4 linked regions of the Homo sapiens genome follow. The protein of the gene in region 1 purifies or fractionates together with the protein of each later gene. This does not show direct contact. Each region holds a gene or a part of one and is shown on either strand. Other genes may lie near its edges. The genes, in order: SMAD1, USP9X, RUNX2 and USP15.

What was found.
Region 2: the proteins of SMAD1 (region 1) and USP9X purify together in Homo sapiens (affinity purification with western blotting; 2 studies listed by BioGRID). This does not show direct contact.
Region 3: the proteins of SMAD1 (region 1) and RUNX2 purify together in Homo sapiens (affinity purification with western blotting; 3 studies listed by BioGRID). This does not show direct contact.
Region 4: the proteins of SMAD1 (region 1) and USP15 purify together in Homo sapiens (affinity purification with western blotting, with the first as the bait; 2 studies listed by BioGRID). This does not show direct contact.

Annotation. Positions count from the first base shown.
Region 1 is NC_000004.12:145,540,366-145,547,905, forward strand, and holds part of SMAD1 (mothers against decapentaplegic homolog 1), read left to right. Parts: intron 1-2,216; coding exon 2,217-2,333; intron 2,334-6,337; coding exon 6,338-6,559; intron 6,560-7,540. UniProt on the Homo sapiens protein: Transcriptional modulator that plays a role in various cellular processes, including embryonic development, cell differentiation, and tissue homeostasis.
Region 2 is NC_000023.11:41,165,240-41,172,779, forward strand, and holds part of USP9X (ubiquitin carboxyl-terminal hydrolase 9X), read left to right. Parts: intron 1-632; coding exon 633-975; intron 976-2,242; coding exon 2,243-2,338; intron 2,339-2,767; coding exon 2,768-2,979; intron 2,980-4,755; coding exon 4,756-4,996; intron 4,997-5,230; coding exon 5,231-5,380; intron 5,381-6,598; coding exon 6,599-6,719; intron 6,720-7,540.
Region 3 is NC_000006.12:45,323,475-45,331,744, forward strand, and holds the start of RUNX2 (runt-related transcription factor 2), read left to right. Parts: upstream 1-4,855; 5' UTR 4,856-4,986; exon of another isoform or gene 4,987-5,021; intron 5,022-5,186; 5' UTR 5,187-5,252; coding exon 5,253-5,310; intron 5,311-8,270. UniProt on the Homo sapiens protein: Transcription factor involved in osteoblastic differentiation and skeletal morphogenesis. Essential for the maturation of osteoblasts and both intramembranous and endochondral ossification.
Region 4 is NC_000012.12:62,381,924-62,389,463, forward strand, and holds part of USP15 (ubiquitin carboxyl-terminal hydrolase 15), read left to right. Parts: intron 1-1,916; coding exon 1,917-2,075; intron 2,076-2,154; coding exon 2,155-2,379; intron 2,380-7,507; coding exon 7,508-7,540. UniProt on the Homo sapiens protein: Hydrolase that removes conjugated ubiquitin from target proteins and regulates various pathways such as the TGF-beta receptor signaling, NF-kappa-B and RNF41/NRDP1-PRKN pathways.

The sequences.
Region 1 (7,540 bases):
ATAAAAAGAAAAATACCGTGTTACACACATTTGCTCTTATGAGAACACAACCTCAATCAGCATCGTTTTCATACATGGAAAAAACTCCTGTTGCAAGTGCAACCTCAGAAAAAATATTTCCTGAGGGATCCCACCCCCTACTTAATTAAATTCATTCAAATGATGATGTAATCCCAAGAAACGTATACTTTAACAACAAAGGAATTACAACAGAAGTACTGGAAACCATCTGCTTGTTCAACTTAGCAAAGACAAAAAACAATTATCCTCTTTTTCTAGACATAACTGTTGGTGTAATGGTTATCAAAATAAATGATTAATAAGGACATTATATATTTTTAAGTTACAGGTTAATGAGCAAGCATCTCCAAAAAAAAAAAAAAAAAGAGTGCCAAATTTCTTGCCAGTAGACTTTAAGAAAGATACCCTAAACAAAAATATACTTAACATCTATTAATGTTTTCGGAAGGGAAAATGACTGGGCAAGTGTGTTTATTGGGCTGCTTGAAATGTTTTTAAGTAAATTTGAATTCAACATCAGTGCTAGGCCTTCAAAAATTGAAAAGTGGTCCACATTTATATTGCTTTCTTTTATTTATGTATTTATTACCTTCTTTTATTTAAATCTTGTTTATTTCACATTGTTTTGTCCGGTTTTCAGTCCAAAGCTGTTTGGGATGAGGGTTGGGAGACAGACTAGTTTAAAAATCAAAGTAACTGGTGACTTCCTGTCTACCTCTCTCCCTTCCTCCTCACCACTAACCTGTATGATGGGCAGGTTAGTGGTGAGGAGATACATTTCAGAAGACTTTTGAGCAGTGGCAGCCCAGAGTGGCCCCAAGATTGAATTAAAGGTTATTGCTTGAATTTACACTTTGTCCCTAAATGTCAGGGATTAAGGCAAAGGCCAAGTAATGGAAATATGGAAAACAGTTGCAAGGGATGGGAGGAGGTGCCTGTAGGAATAGTAGAATAGTATCAAGAATTATCGGGTTCCTCTTGGTTGTGCTGATGCCATAGGTTGCCAATGAAATTTTCACCAGCTTCTTGGCAGAAATTCATTGACTTGGGCTCAGAGGAGGCTCTTTGTCTTTGTTCCTGGCTTGAGATAAAGCCGAGTCAGCCTTACAGCTGCAGAGAAGAGGCTGAATTAAAAGAAGCTGAAAAGGGGCAAAAGAGGCATCCAGAGAAGGTCCCAGTAGTCCCATCTCAGTACTATGAGTTGTTGCTTGTTAGCAGCTGGATGTGAAGTTACCAGGTTGTGATTCAGCTGGAGAGTGAGTCTTGGAAATCACTGGGGCTCTCTGAAGGAACAACATGAGTTGTTTGTATTTGACAGTTGCTCTGAGTGGTCTCGATTACTTATCCAAACATTCACGATTCCCTCAGGTAAAATTTTGTCTCCAAGGCTCTGACACATATGCTAGATGGGCTCATGATAGCTAGTGAGGAGCTTGCTTTTGGATGGAAAAGGATTATTTGTGAGAAACCTATACCCTTTGTTTTATATTAAGAAAATGCAAGACTTGTGTTAGTGTTCTTTGTTTAAAAAATCATGTTTGCCTCTTATTTGCCAGAAGAAACATATATGTAAATTCTGAAATAGGAGATAGCTGTGATAAACTGATTCATTTTCTGTTATTCTGTTACTAGAGATTTTAAAGCTAGTGATTATTTAAATGAGTAGGGAGAGTGTGGTCCTAACAGATTCCCTAAAGTCATGGAAAATTAACAGTTCAAATCAGTAGGCTATAATGAAACTTGGTGAATTTTCTAAAAGCCCATAGATTTAATGCAAAAGACCCTGAAGCTCCTTTTCTTAAGAAGTCCAGTGAAGCTTTCAGAGGTTTTCCATCTATCAGTGAAACTGAAATGCAGAGGTCCTCTCAAAGCAGATTATATTAAAGTGTGCTTAAAATACTCTTCTGATTGCTTTTAAACAGCATGATCCTGCATAGGCAAACAGCTTCTGGAACTGGCATATAGTATAATTCTTTTCCTCCCACTGAATTTTCACAAAAATGTATATGATTGTGGCATGGTTAATACTTTTCAGAAATTGTACATCAAGGCAGTGCCTGTAGCCTTTAGTCTTTTAATGGGGAGATTGAAATGACAACTTGATCTCTTGAGAATTTCAGTACAGAAGAGGATACGTGTTTTGAGCATGTATGTTTACTAAGGGTTAAGAAATAACTTCTTTAAAAACTTTGTAGCTGATACGCCCCCACCTGCTTACCTGCCTCCTGAAGACCCCATGACCCAGGATGGCTCTCAGCCGATGGACACAAACATGATGGCGCCTCCCCTGCCCTCAGAAATCAACAGAGGAGGTAAAACTAATTGCTGCCTGTTCCCTTTTTTAGAGTCTAAAGTTTGTCCAGATGTTACTTTCTCTCACAAATTTTTATTAGTCTTTAAAAAGAGAGCTACTTGAGAAAAATAGAGTCCAATGTTAAGAGAAGCTCACTACAATTGCTGGATAACAAGTAAGTCTTTAATTTAAAGAACAAATACACTGACTTAACTAATGAAGATCTGAGAATAATTTTGCAGTTATCTGTTTAGATCTTTAATACTTAATAATTTTTAACTGATGATGAAAATTTTTTTTTTGTTTTTTTTTGAGACGGAGTTTTGCTCTGGTCACCCAGGCTGGAGCACGATCTTGGTTCACTGCAACCTCCACCTCCCAGGTTCAAGTGATTCTCCTGCCTCAGCCTCCTGAGTAGCTGGGATTACAGGTGCACACCATCACGCCCGACTAATTTTTGTATTTTTAGTAGAGACAGGGTTTCACCATGTTGGCCAGGCTGGTCACGAATTCCTGACCTCAGGTGATCCGCCCACCTTGGCCTCCCAAAGTGCTGGGATTACAGGCGTGAGCCACTGTACCCAGCCAAAAAGAGTATTTTTAAATGAACAAAATGGTATTTAGAAACAATAAGTATAACAGTACTGAAGTAGAGTTTTCACTGGTGATTTCCAAAGTTGGAAGTTGGTATAACTGGGCTGTCCAAAGGCTTTCTTCTGTAATTAGGATAGATACACATAAACCCCGTCTGTTTTTCAGCTCTTATGTATGTGCAACTACAACTGGAACAAACTAATAGAATTTCTTGCTATTTGTTTCTAACTTTGTTACTAAAAGGAATTGAGGCACAAGTTTTTCCCCTTCTCAGCCTGAAGAACTTGCAAGCAGAAATGAAAAATTTCTTTCCCCCTTTAGTAAAGGGTGGGTCTTTGATTCCAGCGCTGTATATATCCTTAGCAGTGACCGAGTGGAGGATGCCATCATTCTTCCAGCTCTACATAGGCAAGTAGGATAGACTTAAGTGAGCAGAGAACTCAGGTAAATAAGTTCGGTAGACTCTCTGAGAAATCTGTTAGAATCCACAGCCACCCTGGCAAATAAAACTGCTCCTAAATAACCTCTCATGAAAGAAAGTGCTTTGCTGCTGCACTCAACACATGGCATGGGTCATGCAATTTATATAATGTTTATGCAAATTGAAGTTAAAGTACAGTTTGGTTACTAGGTATGTCTTGTTTCATTTTAGTGCTTTTTTATTAAAATAGGAGATACTTATTAAAATAGGAGTTGCTTATATTTTTAAGTACTTAAAATTGATTTTGTCTCTATGACACATTATACAGTGGTAACTGCATGTCATTATACATTTATCCAAACCCATAGGATGTACACCATAAGTGAACCCTGACGCAAACCGTAGACTTTGGTTGTAGGTCTGTAGGATGAATGTCGGTTCATCAGTTAAAACAAATGTGCCACTCTGGTGGGGGATATTAATAATGAGGGAGGCTAGGAAGGTGTGGGGGTGGGGGGCATATGGAAAATCACTCTGTCTTATACTCAGTTTTGCTGTGAACCTAAAACTGCTTTAAACATCGATTTAAAAACTGGTGATGAAGGCTGGGCGCGGTGGCTCACGCCTGTAATCCCTAGCACTTTGGGAGGCCGAGGCAGGTGGATCACCTGAGGTCAGGAGTTCAAGACCAGCCTGCCTAACATGGTGAAACCCTGTCTCTACTGCAGATGCAAAAATTAGCTGGGTGTGGTGGCGGGCCCCTGTTGTCCGAGCTACTTGGGAGGCTGAGGCAGGAGAATCACTTGAACCCAGGAGGCAGAGGTTGCAGTGAACTGAGATCACACCATTGCACTCCAGCCTGGGCAACAAGAGCAAAACTCAGTCTCAAAAAAAAAAAAGAAAAAAAAAATTGGTGATAAACTCAAAGGACCTTTCTTGGATGTGCAGTGTCATAAATTGGAATGTACACCACTTTAATCATTATGATTTTTTAAATCTTTTTTATTGCCTCTGTATTTTATGGTTCCTGATTATCTCTTGAACATCTTATCAAACATAATTCTGAGTCAATGAACACTCTGGTTGGGGGAAATAACCCCTATCTCACACATCTGTGGAATTTATATTTGGGGACCAGGATACCAGGAGAGAATAGGCACAGTACCACACTATTAGGAGCATGTGGACCCAGTAACTATTATTACTAAACCCAAAATGTCTGATTTCAGGAAACAGATCTTTAAATTGCTTTAAGATTTTTTTCATTTAAATAGCTTTAATTTTTTTTTCCTTTATAGTTTATAGTCAGTTAATATTTTCACGAGGAAGGAATGTTGGCCATTTTTTTTCTTCCCCCCGCTTTTTTTTTAACTTGTTTTTAACCTTTGGTGATTTTCCTAGAGCAGGGGTGAACAAACTACAGCCCACAGGCCAATTCAGCCTGCTATCTGTTTTTGTAAATAAAGCATTATTGGACCACAGCTGTATTCATTCATTACATATTGTCTATGACTGCTTCTGTGTTACAAGGGCAGAATTGGATAGTTGTGATAAAGATTATACAGCCCATAAAATCTTGCTGGCCTTTCACAGAAAAAATTCATCAACCTCTGACCTAGATGAATAGTATTTTGAAGTATCCTGATAGCTGATAAAAGCCTTCTGCTAATAATGTTGCAGTCTGCTTTAAGATTTGGCACTTGTAAATCACTAAAGTTTTGCTCTTTGAATTATAGCAAATTGATGTGGTAGAGTTGCTTAGCAAGCAGGGAAGATAGTGTATGTTTTTAGCTAACTACTTACATATGTAAAGCGACTAACTTATGTGTGGGTTTTTTCATGAGTATTTTCCTTGTTTTTTTTTTGTGTGTGTGTGTGTGTGTGTTTGTTATTGTTGTTTTGTTTTTTACCAAATTCTAAAGTAAAGTGCATTTTAGTATTTGTGGAATTTGATGTTAAGAACACAGAGGTGCTTCTCCCTTAGCAGTTGTAGTCTGGGCTTCTGATGTGGACTTTCTTTCTTTTCCTCCTTTTATTATTGTACACCCAAGACTTCATAAACCTCAGATCATTATATATTGGTATGCTGGAAATATATGGTTTGTATTCCTGGAATCTCTAAAGGAGTGGTACAAGAGGTTTTACTACAGAAGGAATTCATCTTTAAAACCTTTTAGTTGCAAATGTTTAGAACCATGTTCTGTTTGGAGATTTGTTAGTCTTAAGAGATTTGACTTAACAAGCTGCATCCTGTCAGTAAAGTTGGGTAATTTCCATTGTTGGCCCATTCTGGGAATGGAGAGACAAAACACACCTGCTCTGCATGACTTAAAGCAAATATAAGGAAGTTAGCATGAAATCTGGATGAGAAAGATATGATTCATTCTGTAAGAATGGCCAGCTGGCAAGATTTCTTCCTGAGTTTGAGAACTGGAGCAACACTGTAGCTGTGATAGTTATTGGCAACTTAATATGAGGTAAAGTAACTTCTTATCAATAATTAGAAACTGATTTTCATGGCTTTGAATAAGCATAGGCATACTTAGTCTTTGCCAAAAGTAATTCATTTTTATGCCAGTACCTTTGGCATATTTTCAGTCTTCTATTGTTCTCTTCCCACTTATTTTTTCACTTGTCACTTGTGTTTCTTTAGATGGTGAGCCAAAGTCTGTGGTAGGGGTGATTTCCATTTCTGCATATTACAGAGCAATTAGCATATTGTTAATATTCAGCAAAAGTTTTTGCTGTGCTTCCTTAGCTGGTGTTTTGGTTATCTGATAGTAATTGGAGAAAATTGTTCTCCAATTTTCTCCAATTAGGAGAATAAGGAGAGTGTCATATTAAGAAGTACCTGCTTTAAACATCATAGAAAAACTGTATACATTATAATAGCAATTGCTTTTCCAGTGTCTTCATTCCATGATCCTGAGCCAATTCAACAACACGGTTTCAGTTTTTGAGAGCCTGAGGCACTAACCTTGGTTGATATAACATTTTCTTTCCTCTAGATGTTCAGGCGGTTGCTTATGAGGAACCAAAACACTGGTGCTCTATTGTCTACTATGAGCTCAACAATCGTGTGGGTGAAGCGTTCCATGCCTCCTCCACAAGTGTGTTGGTGGATGGTTTCACTGATCCTTCCAACAATAAGAACCGTTTCTGCCTTGGGCTGCTCTCCAATGTTAACCGGAATTCCACTATTGAAAACACCAGGCGGCATATTGGAAAAGGTGAGTTTTTGCTTTAACCTCTTTCAGATGTTTATCTGTTGTGTCCCTGTTCCTCCAGAGCTGACTTAAAATCATTCCTGTAACAAACTGTTGTAGCAAAGACCAGGTAATGTTCACTTGCTGCAGTTTGTAAATATTTTTCCAGTTTCTGCTATCTGGAAGCTCTTGCAGTCAGTGATTTTTGTGGTCGATCAACTCATAATATTGAAATTAATTAGTTGAAATTATGATTTGCCATTTTAAGACACTATTCTGTATGATATTTTGCTGCAGAATAAATTGGCTGTTATAAAATGAATCACAACCTAAAATTAAAAGCAAATTACAGTTAATTGCTTAATTGTATTTCAAATGAATACCATAACTCAGTAAATAGAAAAGAAAGAACTAGATTTTAGCACAAACATCGTGCAAGGTGGCACGATAGAACCCTGCAGTGATTGTACCCCCACAGGGACACCAAATTGAACAACTGTCCATATAAGACAGCACCTTCAAAAGAACAAAAAATCAGGCATGGATATATTTATAATAAGAAAAAATAAAGACCAAAAAACAAGCCTAGTAAGTTATGAATATAGTAAGTGACTATATATCCTCAGCCTAGGCTGAGTGGAGTAGATAGAGTAGGGGTAGGATTTCAAATAAATCCCGAACTCTTTTTAGTAAACTTGATTATTTCATAGCAGTATGAGTGAAACCATTCTGAAACTTTCATATGTAAAGATGAAGCAAATGACTAAATGTGTGGATATTGTTGGGAGCTTGGGTTTCCACTGTGGAAAACAGACATATAAATGCGGAGGGGAGCAAAAAGTAAACCCTGTGAAGGAGAATAGAAGTATCAGTGCAAAATTCTGATTTTAGTAATACATATGTGTATGTATGTATGCATGTTTATGTTCTCATGTATTACGTATGTGTGTATGCATGGGTATGTATATGCGTTTTTACTTGCGTATAGTTTCTGATCTGCCTGCT
Region 2 (7,540 bases), on another chromosome or scaffold:
GCTACAATTAAATTAGCCATTGCCATCTTTAATTGGAGTGCAGCGGCACAGTCTTGGCTCACTGCAACCTCCGCCTCCCGGGTTCAATTGATTCTCATGCCTCAGTTTCCCCAGTAGCTGGGACTACAGACATGAGCCACCACACCCGGCTAATTTTTATATTTTTAGTCAAGATGGGGTTTTGCCATGTTGGCCAGGCTGGTCACAAACTCCTGACCTCAGGTGATCCGCCCACCTCAGCCTCCCAAAGTGCTGGCATTACAGGCGTGAGTTACTGTGCCCAGCCTAAGTCTTTTATTTTTAACTCAAGCTACTAAACATGCTTCTTTCCAAAAGTCTGGTTTCAAAAACTAAAGGTTCATGGAATGAATCTTTTATTCCTAATTCAGCTAGCTGCATTTCAGGCACAAAGTGGGTGTTCAGTGTGTGCTTGTTGAATTAATTAATATCTAGTGGGGATTTTTTTTTAGTACCAGATAAAAGTAGAGAAATAGGTTATTTTGAAAGAATGAATATCTTTTTATCTATAGTTAAAATATAATGGTGATAAATGTATTTTATAGGTAATACAGATTGCCTTTCCGGATAAAAATTACATAAATCTAATTGCCAATTTTCAATGTTTTTTCAAGATTTTTATTGAAGGATGGTCAGCTGTGGCTATGTGCTCCTCAGGCAAAACAAATATGGAAATGCTTAGCTGAGAATGCAGTTTACCTTTGTGATCGTGAAGCCTGTTTTAAGTGGTATTCCAAGTTGATGGGGGATGAACCAGACTTAGATCCTGATATTAATAAGGACTTCTTTGAAAGTAATGTGCTTCAGCTTGATCCTTCTCTGTTAACTGAAAATGGAATGAAGTGTTTTGAGCGATTCTTCAAAGCTGTGAATTGTCGAGAAGGAAAACTAGTAGCAAAAAGGAGAGCCTATATGATGGATGACTTGGAGTTAATAGGATTAGATTACCTTTGGAGGGTAAGTCAAAAGTAGGAACTCTGTAAATGGTGTCTGATGTACTTTTTCATGTACGTAAGGAATTGTAATTTTGCATATAAATTGTGTATTTTACTCTGATGTTTGTCTCAGGAATTTGGTGTAGTTAGGAATTGTTCATTTTTATTATGTCACCTGTCAGTGGGCTTTTTCTTCTCTCTTCCTCTCCCTCCTCCTGCCACTGATGTTCCTTTTGTCTTAGCTTAGTATCTGTGTATTCCATAGATGTGCACTAAACATACAAATCTTTCATTCCTCCCCCGTGGATATTAATGTTCCTTCCCGAGTTTTCATTCAGTGTCGATCTGTTTCCTCCTCTTCAATGTTTAACACTAAAATAGAGGACAGAAGAGAGGACTTGTGTTTAGTATAGATTATGAGTATATGCTTTATTGGCACTGTTTACCTTGTGATATTTTTAAATACCTGGGGGAATAAAATACTATCTTTTTAAGGCTAATCTATTTTTATAGTACTACTCTATTATGCCTATCTTTAATCTGACCTGTTATACAGCAGTTTATATTGTTTGGATGTCTCACATATTTTCCTGCAAACCATAGATAAAGATGTTTATTGTGGCATTTGAGTATTTAAAAGCTTTTAATTAAGTATGTGGTTTTCAACATTGTTTTAACAGCAGAAACACATCTTAAAACTCAAAATTTGCACCACACTACAAAAGTAAACTGAATTGAACAAGGAAAATATGTTTTCTTACTTGGTCTCCCCATGCTTATCCCCTTTCCCCTCCCCAACCCTTTTATAGGGGCCAACACTGAAACACTTCCTCAAAGTCCCCTAGGGTTCTGAACATAGTTTGGAAACCACTAATGTAATTAGATGAGTGATAAAGATTTATAGAAACTGGGGGTAGAGTAGTCCTTTATGCTAAACTGTGTTTCATGTAATCTCTTATTTCCTGTCAACTAATTTGAATTTCTTCTTGAGTGTCTCACTTGGTTATCAAGATATTAAATTATAGGGTTAAATAATAGTGGTCAAAGCGTATTTTATTTTTACAAAAATGTACCTTTCATTCTTAAATTATTCAGAGACTTTCATTTTGCATTTATTACCCTTTCTTTTGGTCTGTGCTTCTCACTTAATTTTACTTGATTATCAAAGTCAACTTACCATTAAATCATTGAATAGTGTGTTTAAGATAACTGAGGATATGGTTTGAATTTAAATGCCCAACAAAAATATATGTTGAAAGGGATGAATACTTTTATCATTTTGAAACCAGGTCGTGATTCAGAGTAATGATGATATTGCCAGCAGAGCTATAGATCTCCTCAAAGAGATATACACGAACCTTGGTCCAAGACTACAAGTCAATCAGGTGAGGATTGATGTGCATTAAAACTTCCATATATAATTCTTTCGGCCCCCATTTCTCTTATACAAAAGAGAAAAAATATTATCTAAATGAATCTTGCCTTGTTAGTTGTCTTGAAGTGATTGGGTTATTTTTAATATAACTATTTATTAGATGTTGAAATGGCAAAGAAAGTCTATGTGAATTCATTTTGATGCTAACACCTAATCCTGAAGTTCACTTTTGACTAATTTATGTTTGTTAACTTATGTAATGCTAGCTTCCTTTTAATAAACATACATTTTATTATTGTATGGATTCTCTACTTAAATATGACTGTTGTTAATTGAGTGCTACAATTAAATCAGCCATTGCCATCTTTAATTGGATTAATATTTGGTTTTTACATTTTAAAGCAATTTTAACTGTGTTTATTTGGCCTGATATTTGTAGGTGGTGATCCATGAAGACTTCATTCAGTCTTGTTTTGATCGTCTGAAGGCTTCCTATGACACATTGTGTGTTTTGGATGGTGACAAAGACAGTGTTAATTGTGCAAGACAGGAAGCTGTTCGAATGGTTCGAGTATTAACTGTTTTAAGGGAATATATAAATGAATGTGACAGTGATTATCATGAGGAAAGAACAATTCTCCCTATGTCGAGGTTTGTGAATAACTAATCTATTGGTGCTAATTCTTAATTATTTGATATTTTCCTAGCCATTTGGTAAAAGGAGAGCAGAAATTTTTCTCGTTTGAAAATTGTTGTCTTTGCCCATTAAAAACATTTTCATTTCATCTAATTTTTTTTAATAACCTCCCCCACTCTCCCATCTGGTTTTGTTTTGGTTTTTTGGGTGAGGCATTCTTAAGTTGTTTTCTAGTTTTCTTTTTGTCTTTGACATTATTACTCATTAAGTGTTGCAGTGGCATTTTGCAGTTGAAGTGTTTTTGTTTATTTGTTTATTTTGAGAAAAGGTCTTATTCTGTCACCCAGGCTGGAATGCCGAGGTGTAATCATGGCTCACTGCGGGCTCAAGCGACCTTTCCACCTCAGCCTCCCAGGTAGCTGGGGCTACAGGCACAGGCTACCACACCTGGCTAATTTTTTTTGACTTTTTGTGGAGGTGGGGTTTCACTACATTGCCCAGGCTGGTTTCAAACTCCTACGCTCAAGCAAATCCTCCTGCTTTGGCCTCCCAAAGTGCTGGGATTATAGGCGTGAGCTACAGTGCCTGGCCTGTAAAGAGCTCTTAAAAGCTGCCTTGCATGGCATATAACAAATATTTTCAAATGGTGTTTATAGTTTTGGGATGTTTTGTGTAGTCAATGCCATCATTTTTTTTAAAGAGTTTTGTTTATTAATCATGAAATTATATACAGTTGCTTCTTGAATATGATTTTTATTTTGTATTTTACTTTAAAAAAGGTACTATACCAATATAAATAGCATTTTGGAGTGAATTTTGATATGAAGGCTTTTTTCCAGAAAAAAAATAAAGTGCATTGTGGCATTTTTGTTGATGCTTTTAACAAAATGTAAAACGACCTTTTAAATGTAAAAGGTAAACTCTACCTTCTTTTTTTGAATTTTTTTTTTTATTAATACAAGGTCTACCTATGTTGTCGAGGCTGGTCTTGAACTCCTGGGCTCAAGGGATCTTCTTTGCTTGGCCTCCCAAAGTGGTAGGATTACAGGCATGAGCCACTGCGTCCAGCCAACCTTTTACATTTAAAAATAGTCTTAGTGAGTTGGGCTTTTACAGCATAAAAATAAGCGTTATATCTTGGATTTAATTTCATTTTAGTAGACACCTCATTTTCTGCAACCATAGATACAAGACTAACAACAATAGAATATGATTATGTTTTTAAATATTATTTATATTTTTAGTTAAAAGGAGCAATATTTTTTTTTCTTTTGCATTTCACTCTTGTTGCCCAGGCTGGAGTGCAGTGGTGCAGTCTCGGATCACTGCAACCTTTGCCTCCCAGGTTCAAGCGATTCTCCAGCCTCAGCCTCCCAAGTAGCTGGGATTACAGGCGCCCACCACCAAGCCTGGCTTATTTTCTGTATTTTTAGTAGAGATGGAGTTTTACCATGTTGGCCAGGCTGATCTCGAACTACTGACCTCAAGTGATCCACCCGCCTCGGCCTCCCAAAGTGCTGGGATTATAGGCATGAGGCACCATGCCTGGCCTTATTTTCAAGATACTGAAAGTAATACAGGTTGAGTATCCCTAATCCAAGAAATCCAAAATTTGTCTGGTCCCAGACATTTCATATAAGGGATTCTCAAGCTGTATTAAGTATCTTTAATTCACATCCTCTTGTTTAATAAGAAAATACTTAGTGTTAAATCCCCAGCATTATTTTCTTGGCAACAAAATTTCAGAGTCTGCTGAATATGATGATGTCTGTCTTTCTTTTTCCCCCCAGAGCATTCCGCGGTAAACACCTCTCTTTTGTAGTTCGATTTCCAAACCAGGGCAGACAGGTTGATGACTTGGAGGTATGGTCTCATACAAATGATACAATTGGTTCAGTACGACGATGTATTCTCAATCGTATTAAAGCCAACGTAGCCCATACAAAAATTGAGCTCTTTGTGGGCGGTGAGCTGATAGATCCTGCAGATGATAGAAAGTTGATTGGACAATTAAACTTAAAAGATAAATCGGTATGTATGTATAGTTAACAGATTTTTCAATAAAATCAAACCAGAGACTATCGTTTAATCAGTAAATACTAATTGAGCATTTGTTATGTTTGGGACTGTGTTAGGTGTTAGAGTTATAGCATTAAAGTATAGCATGTAGTCTTTCGGATTTTTTGGTTGGTATATCACTAAGTTTTGTGTTTTGTGTAAGTATTTTTCCTTGTTTTTGATATTAACATAGTATATAATTTTCAGCTTATTACAGCCAAACTTACACAGATAAGTTCCAATATGCCTTCAAGCCCTGATAGCTCTTCTGATTCCTCCACTGGATCTCCTGGAAACCATGGTAATCATTACAGTGATGGTCCCAATCCAGAAGTGGAAAGCTGTTTGCCTGGAGTGGTGAGTAGATACAGTTTTGAACTACTGTATGTAAGGCATCATGCTAGGGTTTTTGAGAATAAAGTATATAGAGTGGTTCTTTCTTTTCTTGAGGAGCTTACAGTTTAATGAGACAAAAAAATACAGTTAACCACCAACTTCAGAATGGATCCCTCTAAAAGGTAATTGTAACACAGTTGGAATTTAAAACATAATTTCCCCATAGGTATAGTATTGTTACTTTTACATAAAATTAACCAATTAGAGCTTAATTATAACACTATTGGATGTATAAATTTAGAGGAAAACAGTCATCCCTCGTATACGTGGAGAATTGGTTCCAGGACCTCTGCATATACCCAAAATGCTGCAGATGACCCTGTGCAACCAGATATACAAAAAGTTAGCCTTCCATATACTTGGGTTTTGCTTGCTGGAAATACTGAATTTTCTGTCCACATTTGATTGGGAAAAAAGTCTGCATGTAAATGGACCTGTGCAGTTCAAACTTGTGTTGTTCAAGAGTCAGCTGTATCACTTTCTAAAATTTATACCACAAAACGGATAGTTCTTTTAGAACTATATATGAGCTGGGCATGGTGGCTCACACCTGTAATTCCAGCTACTGGGGAGGCTGTGAGGCAGGAGGATTGCTTGAGCCCAGGAGTTCTAGGCTGCAGTGAGCTGCGATTGTGCCATTATGCTCTAGCCTGGTCAACAGAGTGAGACCCCATCTCTAAAAATATAAATAAATGAAAACAAGAACTATGTAGGAAAATACCTGTAATCTTTATCAGATTGTCAGTAACATATAGCCAAAGAAATATTTTTAAGCTCTCCTTTCGCCCCTCCCGACAGAAATTTTAATGGTTACAATAGTAGCAGCCACTCCAGTGTCAGGAGGATTTGGCTCTCTATAACAACTGGATTAAGAATTTGGTAGTGGGCATGGCAGCCTTTTGTTATGTCCAGAGTCTAAATTGTATATATGAGAGAAATGGTTTAATAGAACAGGAGAGGAGCTATCACAAAAAAATGACTGGAAGTGACTTGATGATGTATTTGATCTGCACTATTAAGGATTTGTAGGGATTAAAAGATGGGAAAGTCAGACTATTTCAAAGAGTAGAAATTTCATAAGTAAAAGTATAGGGATTAACACAGAGAAACTTACTTGGGCTTTTATAAAACGGGAGTAAATAATTTAGAGGTAATTATTTTGTGTATTTTATATTCTAGATAATGTCACTGCATCCCAGATACATCTCTTTTCTTTGGCAAGTTGCAGACTTAGGTAGCAGCCTAAATATGCCACCCCTTAGAGATGGAGCAAGAGTACTTATGAAACTTATGCCGCCAGGTAAGAATTTTTAAATGATGATCAAGTACTTGCTGGACAATAAAGGAGTATATTAGCAAATTCTGTTTCTAAATGGACCGTGCTTTTTGGTATAGACTATAACAAGAGTTGACAGATGACAGCCCACAAGCCACATCAAGCCCCCTGCTTGTTTTTGTGCATCCCAAGAGCTATATTTTTAAGTGGCTACAAAAAAAAAATCTAGAAGAATAATATTTTGTGATACATGAAAATTATATGAAGTTTAAATTTTAGTGTCCATGATCAAAACCAGGCTCATTTGTTTACATTCAGTCTACATGACTGCTTTTGTCTTAAAATAGCACCGCCCAGGAGTTGTGGCAGAGGCCATATGGTTCACAAGCCTAAACTGCTTAACTTTCCTGGCCCTTTACAGAAAATGTTTGCCTATACCTGGACTATAATATGGGTCATGTGTCATCTGCGGTATTGTTCCTTTTTTATCCTTAGAAACAACCACTTCCAACTTCTCGCTTTTACTTTAGTATATATATGTACCATTATGTCTGGAGTGTCCTCATACAGCTATTTCTTTGTTACTTACAGATATATACTGATTTTCTGCTGTGTAGATGAAAACTTAACTGTTACATACCCCCACATCCTCCCAGTATTTGCTTAAATCCAGATTCAACATCTACGTTTCCAAGATTGTTTGAAATATAGTTCTCTAGATCACTGACAACTTTTATCCTGGATTTAATAATTTCCCTTTTATTTTCCTGATTGTACACCTATCACTTATTCTTCCCACATACTTTTTTTTGAGATATTTTTTATCTGAATGTGGGCAAACTATC
Region 3 (8,270 bases), on another chromosome or scaffold:
GAGCAAGCCATTAACATGAATAAAGAGCAAGAAAAACAATTACTTGAAAAAGAAATATGCCTCAGTGGACAATTCAAGTCCCACCCCCAACTTGGCAATAAAAGACATCTTAAAACAAATTGTAACGAAATATACATGACTATACTAAAAGTTTAGATAATGACAATGAGTATCTCAAAATTTAACTTATTTTTCCAAGTGATAATATCCTCTAATCCTATTTAATACTAAAAGAGTTCAATTGAAAGAGAGGAGATTTTCCTTTTGTACCTTTTCCAAGAAAGCTAATATACAAAAGATTCTCATTATAGGACAGTTTTACCTACAGCCATGTTCCATAGCACAAAGTTACAGCAGTGTTCCAACGTATACTATAATGTCCTACAGTTTCATTTACTATATTCTCTAAGTACAAAGGTTCTAAAAAGATTACTTTCACTTCTCCCTAGATACGTTAAATAGCATAGCTGGGATATTATTTTTCTTTGGTTTTGTCAGTAGCATGTTTGATATAAATTATATTAAGTGGTAGTGTATGTAACATTGCATTGTGGGTAGTAGTTTCCTGCTTTAGTCTAGCCACATCCTCAGCTGTCATATGAGCATGTTTCCCATATTTTCTGCAAGTTCTCGCCTTTTTTTATTATTACAAAAATGACAGCATTCAAAGATGAATTGTTCTAATAATTACAAGAAACATGAATTACTTATACAGCTACATTAAACAAGTATGGATCACTCTGCACTTCAAAGAATAATCAAAGAAAAAAAAGTAATCCTCATAATTAAAGTGTTAATACTATGTGAACAATGTATTAAAGTAAATTAGCATAAAAGGATTCAAGAAACAATTAAAAACAGCTGAAAGAAATTAAGTCTCTATAATCAGATGCCAATACTATCTAACAACTGAGGCATTACATATTAGAATATAACAATTTCTAATGAATGTTAAGAGCTCCAAATCTACCGAGTATTCATTAGTGAGGATTAATGTCAATATCCCCTACTAGAACTTAAGAATCTACTTTGAGGCTGTATAGAAATGAGGGAAAAAAGGAAGAGAACCCAAAAAAGCCTGAAGGAGAAAGAAAGGGAAAGAGGAGGAATGGGGGAGACAGGTAGAGGGAGAGAGATTGGTAGAGAGAGAGAGATAGGGAGAGGGAGGGAGGGAAGGCAGGAGAGATTGACTTAGCATTTTCTCTTCTGGCATTCCACATAATCTCACATTTAGACAGCTGCTAAAACTAATCAAATGAAGTTGTTCAAACAATCAGGGAAATGGTGCTAGTTTGGGTTTTTACCTGATCTAATTAAAATAAACTGAGAAAAATGCTCTTATTACAAAAAGTACTACAAAACAATGCCTTGTATACATACGCAATAAGACAAATGTGCATGCAGTTGTGTACATAAACATATACCCCATTAAACAAGGAAATGGAATACTGCACAGTCACCATAATTTAACAGATGAAACTATACATATTTTACTAACAGAAGTAGTCAATATAAGGCCAAATAGATCCCGTGTAAGCTTAAACAGCTATACATCAAATCCAAAAAAAAGAAAAATTGTCAAAAAAAAGTAAAATAAGAAACAGTCACATACCAAGATGAAACAATAAGTTAAAAACTTCCTTCGTAAAACCTCATAATCAGAACATTTTAAGCCAAATTAGGACTTCTAAAGTTTAAAAATTCCTGCATCAAACCATTTTCTCCTTTGTTTTTCAAAGAATGAGCAGCAAATAAAAGAATAGAGTTAGCAGCAAATAAGTCTAAAATAATCCTTAAAAAAATGCATAGAAATGAGCACAATATTGATAAAGTAAAACTAATGTATTAAAATATGATCATTAGTTAAGAAAATAAAAAATTACTCAAATGGTTACAATGAAGACACACATAGCATTTAAACACAAATACCTTGGTATTTTCAAAAGTTCAACCAATTCTAACACATTTTATTCACTACAAAGCAATGGAGAAGCAAGATACCAACAACTTTTTTTCTTTGAAATTGATTTCAAGATCAAAACTGTATTTCATTTCCATGGCATTAAAGTATGTGATTTATACAGTATACCTAAACTTGTTGCTTACTTCAAAACAGCAAATACTAACATGTCCCCAGAGAGGATAAAATTTTATGGGTCTTTAAAAAGCAAAAATAAAAATAAAAATAAATCTGTGGTTTTCAATTTCTGATTATAACCATGGTATAAATCTATAATCAAGAGCTTTATTTGCATTGACTTTTCTAAATCAGTATCTCTTCACCACGTGTAGTAAGCTATTTCTAATGAAACACACTGTTATCAAATGTGTACCAATTATCAAATGTGCCCCAGTTGTCATTGTTTTTTAAATTTTTACAACAAAGTAATATTTGCTCCAAAGAGGATATATTTTCGTTTTAGGAAAAAAATTCATGTGGATAATGAATATACTAACTTAAAGCACATGATTTCACTATCTTTCTCCTGCTAGAATTTGATAGGCCTCACAGAGGACAAAAAGTGCATATATAACAATATCTACTAAACTCTCAAATCCTGGTCCAAAAATTACATGCAGGAGGATTACCTGCAAAAAGTGAACAGGTAATTAAATGACAAATAGATGTTAAAAATTACTTAAATTCTTATCAGGTCAATTTGAAGAGCCAAAGTTTACATAAAGAAGATTTTAAGGAAGAAAATAGCAAAATGTTGGGTTTGTAAGATGTTTCAGTGAATGCTAATGTAGAAACTATAAGCTTATTTGAAAAGAAGAAAACCATTTGCTGATCATACTACAGCAGCTACCTACATATTTTCAATTAAGTGATTCTGCTATTATAGGTACACATGAAACCATGTTTGGAAATCCCACAAGCTATAAGGACAAAACCCTCCTTTTGTTTACTTTGGATACTAATTAGAGATACAGATAATATGGATACGACTTATTTATAAAAGAGAAAAAATAATTTTTCTCTCCTTCACATGAATAACTGCATGTTAAATGAACGCTTTTACCTTTCAATGTAAAATCTGTTTACACATACAATAAGGCATGATAAATCCATAGTTAAAATAAAACACCAAAATGTATTTCTGGTTTTTTATCACTAAAAGTTTATTCTGAAAAGGTTCTGGACATTTGAAAAATAAAGGACTAGAATCATTCCCATACCCTACCAGTGTATTTTGGGAAAATCAAATTTTCTGTAAAGAAACTTATGAACATATTTGTACAGTTATTGTGATCTAATATGAACCAAAAGCAGATAATGAATAGCACTAGGAAGAACACAGGGATATTTTAGTTCTAACACCCTCCTGTCTCCCTAGCCCTTACCTCCCTGCACATTCCAAATAATCTTTTGTAATTCACTGTCTCCGCCCACCCCATTTACTTTATGCCACTCCTAGTTACTGTCACACTAGGAAGAAGTCTAACATGCAGATTTAGAGTGGCATGGATAAATGGCAAAAAAATGCCTAGAAAATTGGTCTGTTCGCCTTTATAATTTTGGTTGAAAAATACTCCATCGCTCCCAACTGATGAAAACAGGAAGCTCTATTCATAAATATAAAATTCACTGCCTATGATATATAATCATCCTAATAAGAAAATGAGTTCTATACATACTTGTCCAAAGGGGCAAAAAAGGAGATAGTTTCCCAAAGATGTTTCCAATTTTCTTCTGAATCAGAATTAGCAAATCGAGACGACTAACATACTCTGTCTGTGGGCATTATTCCTTACTACACACAGCATTTTGTAATTTATTTCAAAGCTTCCATTAGAAACAAAAAAATACATAGCTTCTGTTAACCCACTCTATTCTAAGCTCATAGAATCAAATACTGAACAATCTACATTATAACATAAGCATTTTACTTTATAGAAGATCTGCTATCAGAAACTCTATTAATGTCTAAACTACTTAAAGAACTATATAAACTGAATACACTTCAATGAAAGACAAAAAATATTACAATCATAAAGAAAACTAAGATTCATCCAATAAACTATATTACAATCCCTGTCATTCATTTTTTTAAGATCTTCAAACTAGGCATGAGATAATGGTATACATGAAACATTACATTTAATCTTTATTGTAAAGGCCGCCATCTAATAGATTGATAATAAACTAGACAGACGTGATTTAAAATTTGTAAAAGAATGCCCAGACTAACACTTTCATGACAGCCAATTATAGTCAAGCCTAGCAAGCAGTTTGCAACCAGACCTTAAGGTAAACTTTTTTTTTTTTTACAATGAGTTACAGATTCACAAGTTTAAGAAGACAAGAAAAAGGAAAACAGAAGGAATCCAGCCACCCAGCAAATATGAAGCAGACCCCAGAATGTGATACAGTCCAAAGATGTGAATTATTGTATATCATCACTGTTGTTCAGAATTTCACACAGACTCTTGAGCCAATTTTGTTCATTTTTCCACAGACACAATAATGAACTAAAAAGAGGAGGCAAAAAGGCAGAGGTTGAGCGGGGAGTAGAAAGGAAAGCCCTTAACTGCAGAGCTCTGCTCTACAAATGCTTAACCTTACAGGAGTTTGGGCTCCTTCAGCATTTGTATTCTATCCAAATCCTCATGAGTCACAAAAATTAAAAAGCTATATCCTTCTGGATGCCAGGAAAGGCCTTACCACAAGCCTTTTGTGAGAGAAAGAGAGAGAGAGAAAGAGCAAGGGGGAAAAGCCACAGTGGTAGGCAGTCCCACTTTACTTAAGAGTACTGTGAGGTCACAAACCACATGATTCTGCCTCTCCAGTAATAGTGCTTGCAAAAAAAAGGAGTTTTAAAGCTTTTGCTTTTTTGGATTGTGTGAATGCTTCATTCGCCTCACAAACAACCACAGAACCACAAGTGCGGTGCAAACTTTCTCCAGGAGGACAGCAAGAAGTCTCTGGTTTTTAAATGGTTAATCTCCGCAGGTCACTACCAGCCACCGAGACCAACAGAGTCAGTGAGTGCTCTCTAACCACAGTCTATGCAGTAATAGTAGGTCCTTCAAATATTTGCTCATTCTCTTTTTGTTTTGTTTCTTTGCTTTTCACATGTTACCAGCTACATAATTTCTTGACAGAAAAAAATAAATATAAAGTCTATGTACTCCAGGCATACTGTAAAACTAAAACAAGGTTTGGGTATGGTTTGTATTTTCAGTTTAAGGCTGCAAGCAGTATTTACAACAGAGGGTACAAGTTCTATCTGAAAAAAAAAGGAGGGACTATGGCATCAAACAGCCTCTTCAGCACAGTGACACCATGTCAGCAAAACTTCTTTTGGGGTAAGTGTTACCATTTTTAAAATCCTGTAAGATATGAACCTGTTAAACATAAAGGTATGATTCTTTGATAAACTGCTAGCTTTTCCAAATAGCATATTAAAGATCCTAATTATGCTATCTTGTTGCATTAAGAATTGAAAAATGAAATTTCTGTATATATTTGCATTTGGTATCTGTAATGTATCTAATTTTCAAAGTAATGACTTGAAATATACAAAATTAAATTATCTCACATTGATCAAAATGTTTTCTAGAGTTATAGAGGTGAGGATATGAAAACAGTAAAAGAAACAGTTTAATACTCTCATTAACCCTCACCAGAAGAAAAGTCAGATCCTAAATTAATCAAAGCATTATAAATTATTGACTCCGGCAGCTCCCAATATTTGAGCAAACTTCAAAAAGGAAGCAATTTTACAAAATAACAGACCACAGAATTATCTCAACATTATGGTCTACCATGTATAACACAGAAATAAACCTGTAGTACAGTTAACATTTTAACCAGCTCAACTAAAAGAAATCTACTTATAAATTCAAACTGTATCCTATCTAAATAAGTTTGTTTCTAAACAACTTTATATAAGTATACATTCAGCTGAAATAAAATTATGATAAGCACATCACAGCCATTTTTAAAAGATCTTTATAGTTGCCCAGGATATTAAAAAGTTCATGGAAGTATTTTAAAACTTACATGCAACTGCATTTTTCTATGTAATTTTAATTTTACATCTACACACTGTTATCCATAGACCTTGTTATAAACACACTGAAACACTGAAACGTCTAAGATTCTTTTAATCACATTCTTGGACCTACCAAAATGAATAACTGCTGTTTAGTCTCATGAAAAATAAAGCTCCATAAGGATACCCTGTATGATTTTTAAAAGCCACAACTATTAAACCATGCTGGACTTTAAAAGAAGTAGGCATAATCTTGTCCCTTAATATTTAATTTCAAGTTACTGTTGATACAGATATGTAAATGACTTTAACATTCATCAGCTGATGTGTTATTATAGCAAAATATCTAAACACACTTACAAGATTCTCTTTATGATCTCCAACATGTTCCAACTACAAGGCAAGTTTTCAAAAATTTTTCTTATATCCATTAAAATAAACCTTCTTGCTGTGTACATCTATATTAACTCTGCTTTTAACTTACAACTAATGACTGGAGTTTCCTTTACTCCTCCTACTTCACACATTTTAACTGGATACTACTAGAGGATCAGTCTCAGTTTAGGTCAAACAGAAATAATTAAACCTGAAGGGAGAAAAAATGGTTTCTCTTACAGGGTGAGGAAATGTACTTTGTATTTTACAAAAAAAAATGTAAAATTGCTTTAGTGACTCCCTCAATAGCTGTAAGTGGGCCCCCTCAGTTATAATATATACAATATAATAATCACAGATTAATTTAAAATTTTAATGATGGGTACCAAGTATTACTCTAAAAACTTCTATATTAAGGAAGCAGGACATAAACACAGCTAGACTACATTACAACACATAGCATAATTACAGCTTATACATCGAAAGTTTTGTTACTACTACCCAAGAGATAAAAGGAAAAAGAATAGTTAAAACTACTGTTACACAGAGGGATAACTTGAAACAGGGATAACAGAGATATCAGGGAGGGATAACAGAGGCAGTTAAGTTACTCTTTCACGTTATCACTCTGTTTAACTATTTATTTTAAACACATTTTAAAAACCAGATCAGGAACAACACAAGTTTCAAAAAATTCTTCAGTATTAGAAGTAAAGTTATCATGAAGAATATGTTAAAATTCTCACAAAGAATATATTAAACTGCTTCTTATTCTATCATAACAGGGATCTTATACTTCTGTAACATTCTTAATAACTATTCAAAATTTCCAAAACTTGACAGGATTCTAAGCAAGGCATGGTAGTGAACCTTTTTTTTTTCCAACATTACAACCAGTTCTTCCTCTTTTGAAAAGTGGGCTGCACCTTCCCTCCCCGCCAGCCCCCAAACAGTATCTTGAAGCCTGAATAGAGAACTTAACATCAACCCACTACCTCAGACTAATTACAGGTGAGTAGTGGACATCATGTATATGTTATCACATTGCAAACATTTCCCCATTCTATAATCTATGCAAAGCCTAAAACCTCACTTCAGGCTTTAGATTTTTATATAATGATTATCACCACCACCTAATGAAATGTCTTAAGTATGTGCCCCAATTTTGTAAAATAGTTAAAAAGAAAGTTTAGGATTTTCCTAGGTGAGGTACAAAGCACACATTAACAACTGCTTCACCTCAAATACAATGAGTGGTGTGTGTGTGTGTGTGTGTGTGCGCGCGCGCGCGCACATGCTAGAGAAAGAGTATGTCTGTGTCCTTGATCTCTCAGCATACTTCACTTTGAGTTAATCAAAAATTTTCAATCTGTACTACTCAAAATCTGTCCATCATTTATCATAAATATAGCTTGCTGAAAATCACAGATGTGACTCATAGAGTATCTTAAAATTAATGACTCATGAAAATATATCAGCTGACTGATTATCTACATAAAATCTTTGTAACTGCTTGAACATGATGTGTGAACACTGATTTCCAAAACAGCAATTGTGGTCCATATCAATAATATATTTATAGTTTCAAGATTCAGTAGTGACAAAGTTTTATAGCTTCTTTTTAAAATACAGAGCTAAATTCCAAAACTAGGGAGCAGAATTACAAAGTTAAGAACAAACACAGAAAATCACTCTAACACATATCAAAAGCTAAAAATGTCAAAGTAATTCCCAAAGACTCATATAAATTATTTTAAATTATAATAATCCTAATTTTACATTACAAACTGTTAAAGATTTTTAGTTTTTATTTTTAAAAAATGTTTTGAAATCTAAAACACTGAAAAGAAATTGTGGAAAAAGATCTGGCTGGTCTGTCTGACTCTCCTGATCAAT
Region 4 (7,540 bases), on another chromosome or scaffold:
GAAAAACACTGGTGTGGTACAAGAATGAGTATAGAGACAGCAATGAGCGTTTGTATAGTTGTTTTGGAATATAGTACATCTCTGGAAAACCTATGTGAATATTCTATACAAATGTAAAAGACTAAATTTGGGCATGTTACTGAACTCTAAGAACCCATTTTACTTTGAGAGTCATTATGAATTTGAAAAATTATCAAAATGAAAATAGTCTGCAAACCAAGCATTAAAAATTAAATGTACTTTCAATATAGTTCTTAAACTTTTAAGGTTATTCACATGTGTGAATTGTTACTTATCAAATAATTTATTGTTCAAATAAGAATTGAGCTGAAATTTAGCTTTATGGCTGAAATTTAGCTTTATATTGTTAAAAAAATGCCTACTTAATTATATAGGTGAAACTTTGAGAAGTTTTAAACTTGTAGAGAGAATAAGCAGTTTTAAGTCGTTATTTATACAAGTAATTTAAATGGCATTGATAGAGGACATCTACTGGACAACATTTTTTATTAGCTATATACTAGTTCTTAGAAAATAAAAAACCAGCAAATCAAAATGCCTCTGTATTGTCTTCCTTAACATTCTAAACTTTGGACAAACTAGTCCAGACAAACCATCTCTCAGCTCTTACTAGCATTCTAATTGGTTTTATTTTGGTAGATTTTCTCTCTTAAAATTATGTGTAAATAGGTTCTTTATGTGTGACTTTTTTTCTGTCAGATGATGATTCATACTATTACATTTATTTTCAGTCTCATCCAAAAACAAAAATACTTAGTGATGAAAGATTAGGAAAATTGAATATGAACATTAATGTTTCTGTTATCTCTGTGATACTCATCCTCCTTTTGCGCATAGAAACTAAGTGAGAGCCTAGAGTAGTTATCTTAAAAATGCTTTCAGATACGTAATTATCTTTATGTGGTAATATAGCAAGGATGAGAACCTGCCTCTTCCTGTCTACCTACCAGACATTTATAGGAGGAGGCAATAGGAATACCTAAAGCTAAGAATTAAGGACATCTGGAAAATCCTTTGACAAATAGTGAAACAACAATTAATGACAATGAAATCTATGACCAAACAAAGATCAATACATTTTTATATATTAAAGATTACATGTGTTGATCTATTTTGTCCCAGATAAGCTTTGTTGAGTGCTTACTAGGAATGCAAAACAAAATATAATTCATATATATTCCTGTTGTTCGTGTATACAATTTTTATTATTCACAGGAGTTATGTTCAATGAAGCTGCCACAAACACTGAAATAACAACTACTGAACCATTACTCCTAGGGAAACTATAGGGTTTGATTCCTCCAAGCCTTTGTTCACAACATTTTCGTCAACCAGACAATGTATAACTTTGTTTTGCATGTGTTTCTGTTTAAAAACAACTTGTTTAATATATATTGTTGAGTCCTTAACATTGAACTCACAGCAAACAGTGCTATAACTCATGTCTTAATGAAGCATATCTAACACATACTTTTTCTCCATAAAGCACATCACAGCTTTCTTGCATTTAGGAACACTAGCTGGCATGTTTGTACTTCATTTAGTGACCATTTTAAACACTGAAATTAACAACAAAACAAACAAAAATGTGAAAAAACATAACACTAAATAAACTACAAAGGACACTTGTTTATAGATTCAGAGCTGAAACAACAAGCCAAAGCATCACCTTGTTCAACCCCAGCTGGTAACATGCATATCAGGTGACTCAAATTTTTTGCCACTCTGAAAATATCTACAAATGACCATGAATTGATTTTGGGGTTACAAATACATTTTAGAAAGCAGGCAAATTCACAAATGTGGAATCCATGAATAATGAGAATCTATTGTACATATGTTTAAAAATCAACCCTGTTCCTAGAACTGATTTGATGGTTTTGCATTTCTTACAGACACAGGTAGGACGTTTTGCACCTCAGTTCTCTGGATATCAGCAGCAAGACTGTCAAGAACTGTTAGCTTTCCTATTAGATGGATTACATGAGGATTTGAATAGAATTAGGAAAAAACCATATATACAATTAAAAGATGCAGATGGAAGGCCAGATAAGGTAAATTTCATGATCCTATTGTCACCATTGTTATAATTTTGTGATACCTCTTTCTAATTTGTGTCTATTATCCTTGTAGGTGGTTGCCGAAGAAGCCTGGGAAAACCATTTAAAACGAAATGATTCTATCATAGTAGATATATTTCATGGCCTTTTCAAATCAACTTTAGTTTGTCCTGAGTGTGCTAAGATTTCAGTAACATTTGATCCTTTTTGTTACTTGACACTTCCATTGCCCATGAAAAAAGAACGCACCTTGGAAGTTTACTTAGTTAGAATGGATCCACTTACCAAACCTATGCAGGTAAATCATGGGTTGGTTTGTTTTGTTTTTTTTTTTTTTTTTTTGCATTTGTTATTTTTATTAAAAAATTAGTGTTGAGTCCTTATTATAAAAATTAAGTATTGAATTATCAAGCCCAATCAATAATGTTTATTTGTATAAGAGATTTTATAAGCTGAATACTTTGGAAATCAGTGTAACTTTTTACAGTCTTGAAAGAGCAACGTGTGTCTTATAAAAAATTCTCAAAAGGCTTTTTATAGAGGTTTATTTTTATAATATTGGGGTGAATATTAGCTTATGAAGATCAACATAATATTTTTAATTTTTTTAAACTTCAACTTTCTTTAGTGTTAATTGTAATTTTTTTTTACTAGTGGCTATTGGAAGTAAAGCTAATACTTTTAATTCATAGTGTGATAGTAGTGTATTTAAATACCTGTAATTTTTAGGCATTTTAGGAACTTAAAAGAAAGTAGAAATTCAGTTAGACTAAAAATATTTTGTTCAGTGATGTTCTCTAATTTCTAATACTTTGAAGTATCACATATTGTTTATTCTGTGCAAAAGTCCTGTGGTAAGTCTTACTGTCAAATTGTCTGCCTGATTCCGTTACCTAGTGTTATAATTGGATTATTTATATTTTGTGGGTAAAGCACTATCTTTTCTCCCTTATTTATTAATCAGTTAATCCTCTTCTGACACTTGACCCATCCCAGTGAAAGTAACTTCTTCTTTTTCTACCTCTCTTTCCCTAAATTCTAACACTTAACTAATTTTGTTATAACTTTTGGCTTACTTTTATCTTTTATCCCTAGACTACAAGTCTTTGAAGACAGAGACCTTGTAAACCTTTGTATTTCCAGCTTTTGTGGCTGGTAAATATTAATGCACAAGAAGTATTCAAAAATTTTATTCATCAAGATACTTAACTATGCACCTACTAAGTATAAAGCTCTTTGGCTAAACAAAAAAGATATGATTCCTGCTTTAGAAGATTGTTTTCTGTAAATTTTTAGCCAAATAGCTCAGTTTGTTAGTGCATAATAGTCACGATGTCTATATGAAAGCTATATTTGAACAAAATTATGATCTTACCATTCAGGGATGTATTTGGGTTTATTGTCAACAAAGACAGGGTATATGTAGTGTTCATAAACACACAGTCCTTTTATTCAAAGTAATTAAAGTCTAGTAGATACTAGGTATGTACTCAGTTATGCAAATTTAAGCAATTTGTTTTTCTGCTGCTTTATGTTTTCTTTATGAACTCATTGAACACAATGCCCTCATATCAGTATTTCACTGGAGAGTGCTAAGTACTATCCCTTATCTGTGAGCAGAGCCAATAAAGACCTGCTTTTACTTTTGGCCTGGGGAATATGTGTTCACATTTTTAAAGTTATATCCTTTAGATATTCACTTATTCACTCGTTTATAAGTACAAGATTGTCAACATTCTTTTCAATGGTGAGAAACTATAACAGTGCCAAACCACATCCTTACCTCTCTAGTTTATAACTTTGCAGATATACACCAATGAGTGTAATGGAGCAAGAGAGCGTAGAATAATAAGTATAAATTTACTGCAACAAAAAATAAATGTAGATGTTTTATTTCTCTACAGCACATTTGTTAGAGATAATATTCTCCCATGCCAATAATATAAGGTAATCTATATCAATAGTGGCAAATTGCATTAATTTACACATTAGTCCATAAGGTATATGATAAGTGCTCTTCCATAAATTGGGCTCTAAATTATTTTTCCAGCAATGTGAATTTCATTGACTTATCACTTTTCTCATTTGGTGACCAATAATATAAATTTGCGGAGGTTAGAGCCATGGTTAGCACAGAGAAATTCGTTTGTTTTTGTGTTTTGTGTTTTTTTTTTTTCCTTTTTTCCATTTAGAGGCAGTAACAACTCAAATACAAAATGATCACCTCATTTCATTAACACTATGCTTTGACCAGCTTGTAAGAAAAGTGAAATTAGCTGAGTTTCCCTATTTGTTGAGTTTTCCCGTCATTGAAGTTGATTTAGGTCATGGAAGCTTATTAGGAAAAATATTGAATATATATTATATCTTAGGCTCTTATGCTGTGCAAGGTGCTAGAAATATAATGGTGTTTCTAGTCCTTGTTCTTCAAGAAGCTTGTCATACAGTGTGAAAATTGCTCTGACAGGGTGCTGCAAGAGAACACAGAGTAACCTACCCAAACTGGTTATGAGGCCTGTGATAAATTCTGAAGGACAATTAGGTTATAAGCAGGTGAAAACTAGAAATAAAAGCATTATAGGCCAAGATAATGGCATGTACAAAGAACTTATGGGAGAAGAGGACATGGCCCACTTCTGTAATCTACAGTAGTTAATATGGCAAGCAGGAGCTAGATCACGAAGAACTTTGATGCCAGTATAGGAAGTTTGAACTTCATCCTAAAAACTAGGGAAGCCATTAAAGACTATTAAGTATAGATATTATATGGCCACAATTATGTTTCAGAAAGATGATTCTGGGTAGCACAGAGATCAGTTAGAAAAGGCTTAGTACTAAGACCAGGTAAGAAGCTTTTAATGATCAGACGACAGACAAATGACAAACACTTCAACTCTGTCAGGATGGCAGTTTGAAGAACCAGTTGAATGTAGGAAGTGAAAATGTGTAAGTATATTCAAAGATGATGCCAAGTTTACTTGACAGGAAAAGAGGAGACAGCAGTGCTGTTTTAGTGGAATATATAGGAAGAACAAGTTGAAGAAGGAATCCATTTTAGTATTGAACGTGGTGGCCTAACATGACCCAAACCTGTGTTTAGTATTGGATATGCTGACTTACAGATGCATGAGGAACACTTAGGTAGAGATATCCAGTAGGCATTGAATTTGTGTATCTAGACCAAAGGAGAGAGACTGCTTTAGCTATAAATTGGACAATCAGCTCTATGAAAATGATAGTGTTTTAGAAGGATGAGATTACTTAAGGCTAAGGTGACCCCGTGATTTATCATCTAAACAAGAACTCTTGAAAATAGAAGGGACTGTCATTAATAATTATACTAGGATAGCAGGCTAATCCAGGACTGGCCAAAGCAAATCAGGAGACACTGTTGCCTCTTCCAAGGAGAGCATATAAAATTGAGAAGAAGGCTAAAGACAACACTCTAAAGAACAATGTAGGAGAACTTCAAAAGAGGAATATGATCACAGCAATAGAAAAGAATTAAAAGTAGTCGTGTTATAAGGAAAGGGAATTTTTTAAGGAGAAAGTGGTCAGCAGTCATATTACAAAGAGGTCAATAAAATAAAGACTGATAAGTTGTACAACATTATTGGCAACCTTGGAAACAAGTTAAATAAAGAGGCGAAGACAAGCCAGCAAGAGGGTTGAGAAGTAAATGGGAGATAAGGAAGTTATGATAATATAGATATCATTAATAAAGTTATTTATAAAATAGAGGAGAAGGGGAGATAATTAGAGGGAAAGCAATGAGGTACCCTTGTTTTTTGAGAGACTTTATATTCCAATGCTTATGCAAGAGTTGAGATAAAATGGAAGAAAGAATAATTGCTTGGTTTAGGTCCCAGAGAAAGCAGAAGAGCATGGGATTTAGAACATAGACGCTAAGGTTAGCTTTGAATAAGAAGAGAGACATCTTTCTTTCCATGTGTTGCAAGAGACAGAAAAGTACCTATGTGGATTCAAAGAAGTTAGTAGAACAGGAAGTTGGAGATTTTCCCACCCAGTAGTTTCTGTTTTTGAGATGAAATAGGTATTCTGCTGATATTAAGGGAGCAGTAGTGAAATAGGAAGCCTAAAGAATGGTGAAGATTTTTTTTTTTTTTTTTTTTTTTTTGTTAATGAGACAGGGTCTTGCTCTGTCACCCAAGTTGGAGTACATTAGGGTGTGATCTCAGCTCACTGCAACCTCCGCCTCCTGGGCTCAAGGGATTCTCCCGCCTCAGACTCCCAAGTAGCTGGGACTACAGGTGTGCGCCTCCGAGCCCAGCTAATTTTTTGTATTTTTGTAGCAACAGGGTTTTGCCATGTTATCCAGGCTGGTCTCGAACTTTCGGGCTTAAGCGATTCACCTGCCTTGGCCTCCCAAAGTGTTGGGATTACAGGCGTGAGCCACTGGGCCCAGCCCAATGAAGATTTTAAATAGTTATTGAGATAAATGAGAGAATAACCACATGTGTGATATGCAGAATTATTTCTGAGTACTGTCAAAGGATCAATTGATATTGGGCACTGTGGATTTGTAGCACACCAGCCTCTAAAATTGGGAAATTCTCTTCAGCACATGTGAACAGCTCTGAGAAAGTTTAGCAAGAGTGGAATGAATAGAATTGAGTAACAAAGACATTAAAGGTTCGTGATAAAGCATGTAGGGCCTGGATGGAAGGGCTAGAAGACAGTAGGGAGCTGGTAAACTGGGAGAAAACAAGAGTTAAAAGGAATAGAAATCTCTGTGCAAGACAAGAAGAGATAAGAATGAATTTCCAGGAGAAGCAAGAAGTAGTGGTTAGACAGTAACCCGAGTTTAAGATACTAAAAGTGGGGCCGGGTGCAGTGGCTCAGTCCTGTAATCCCAGCATTTTGGGAGACTGAGGCAGAAGGTCACTTGAATCCAGGATTTTGAGACCATTCTGGGCAACATAATGAGACCTTGTCTCTAAAAAATAAAAATTAGCCAGTCATGGTGTCACACGCATGTAGTCCTAGCTACGCAAGAGGCTGAATTCGGAAGATGGCTTGAGCCCGGGAGGTTGAGGCTGCGGTGAGCCAAGATCATGCCACTGCACTCCAGCCTGGGCAACAGAGTGAGTGAGAGCCTGTCTCTAAACAACAAACAAAAAAAGATAGCAAAAGTGGGAGCAGTTTCAAGTAATGACAGGATCTAATAAGTTGACTGAGGTTGAATTAATGCAAGTGTCTTTGAATTGAGGAGCCAAGGAATGATAAAACTAGGACAAATTATCCATGTGGGCATTGTCACACAGGACCCAGGATAGTGGCAAGATTGGAGACAAACACTAATCCAAATGCCAAATGAATGTGAGATAGCAACCATGAGGTCACTCTCATTTACTGAATTTTTTTTCCAAAATAATAAATTCATTACAATTTTTTTTGTTTTTTAGTACAAAGTGGTTGTCCCCAAAATTGGAAACATA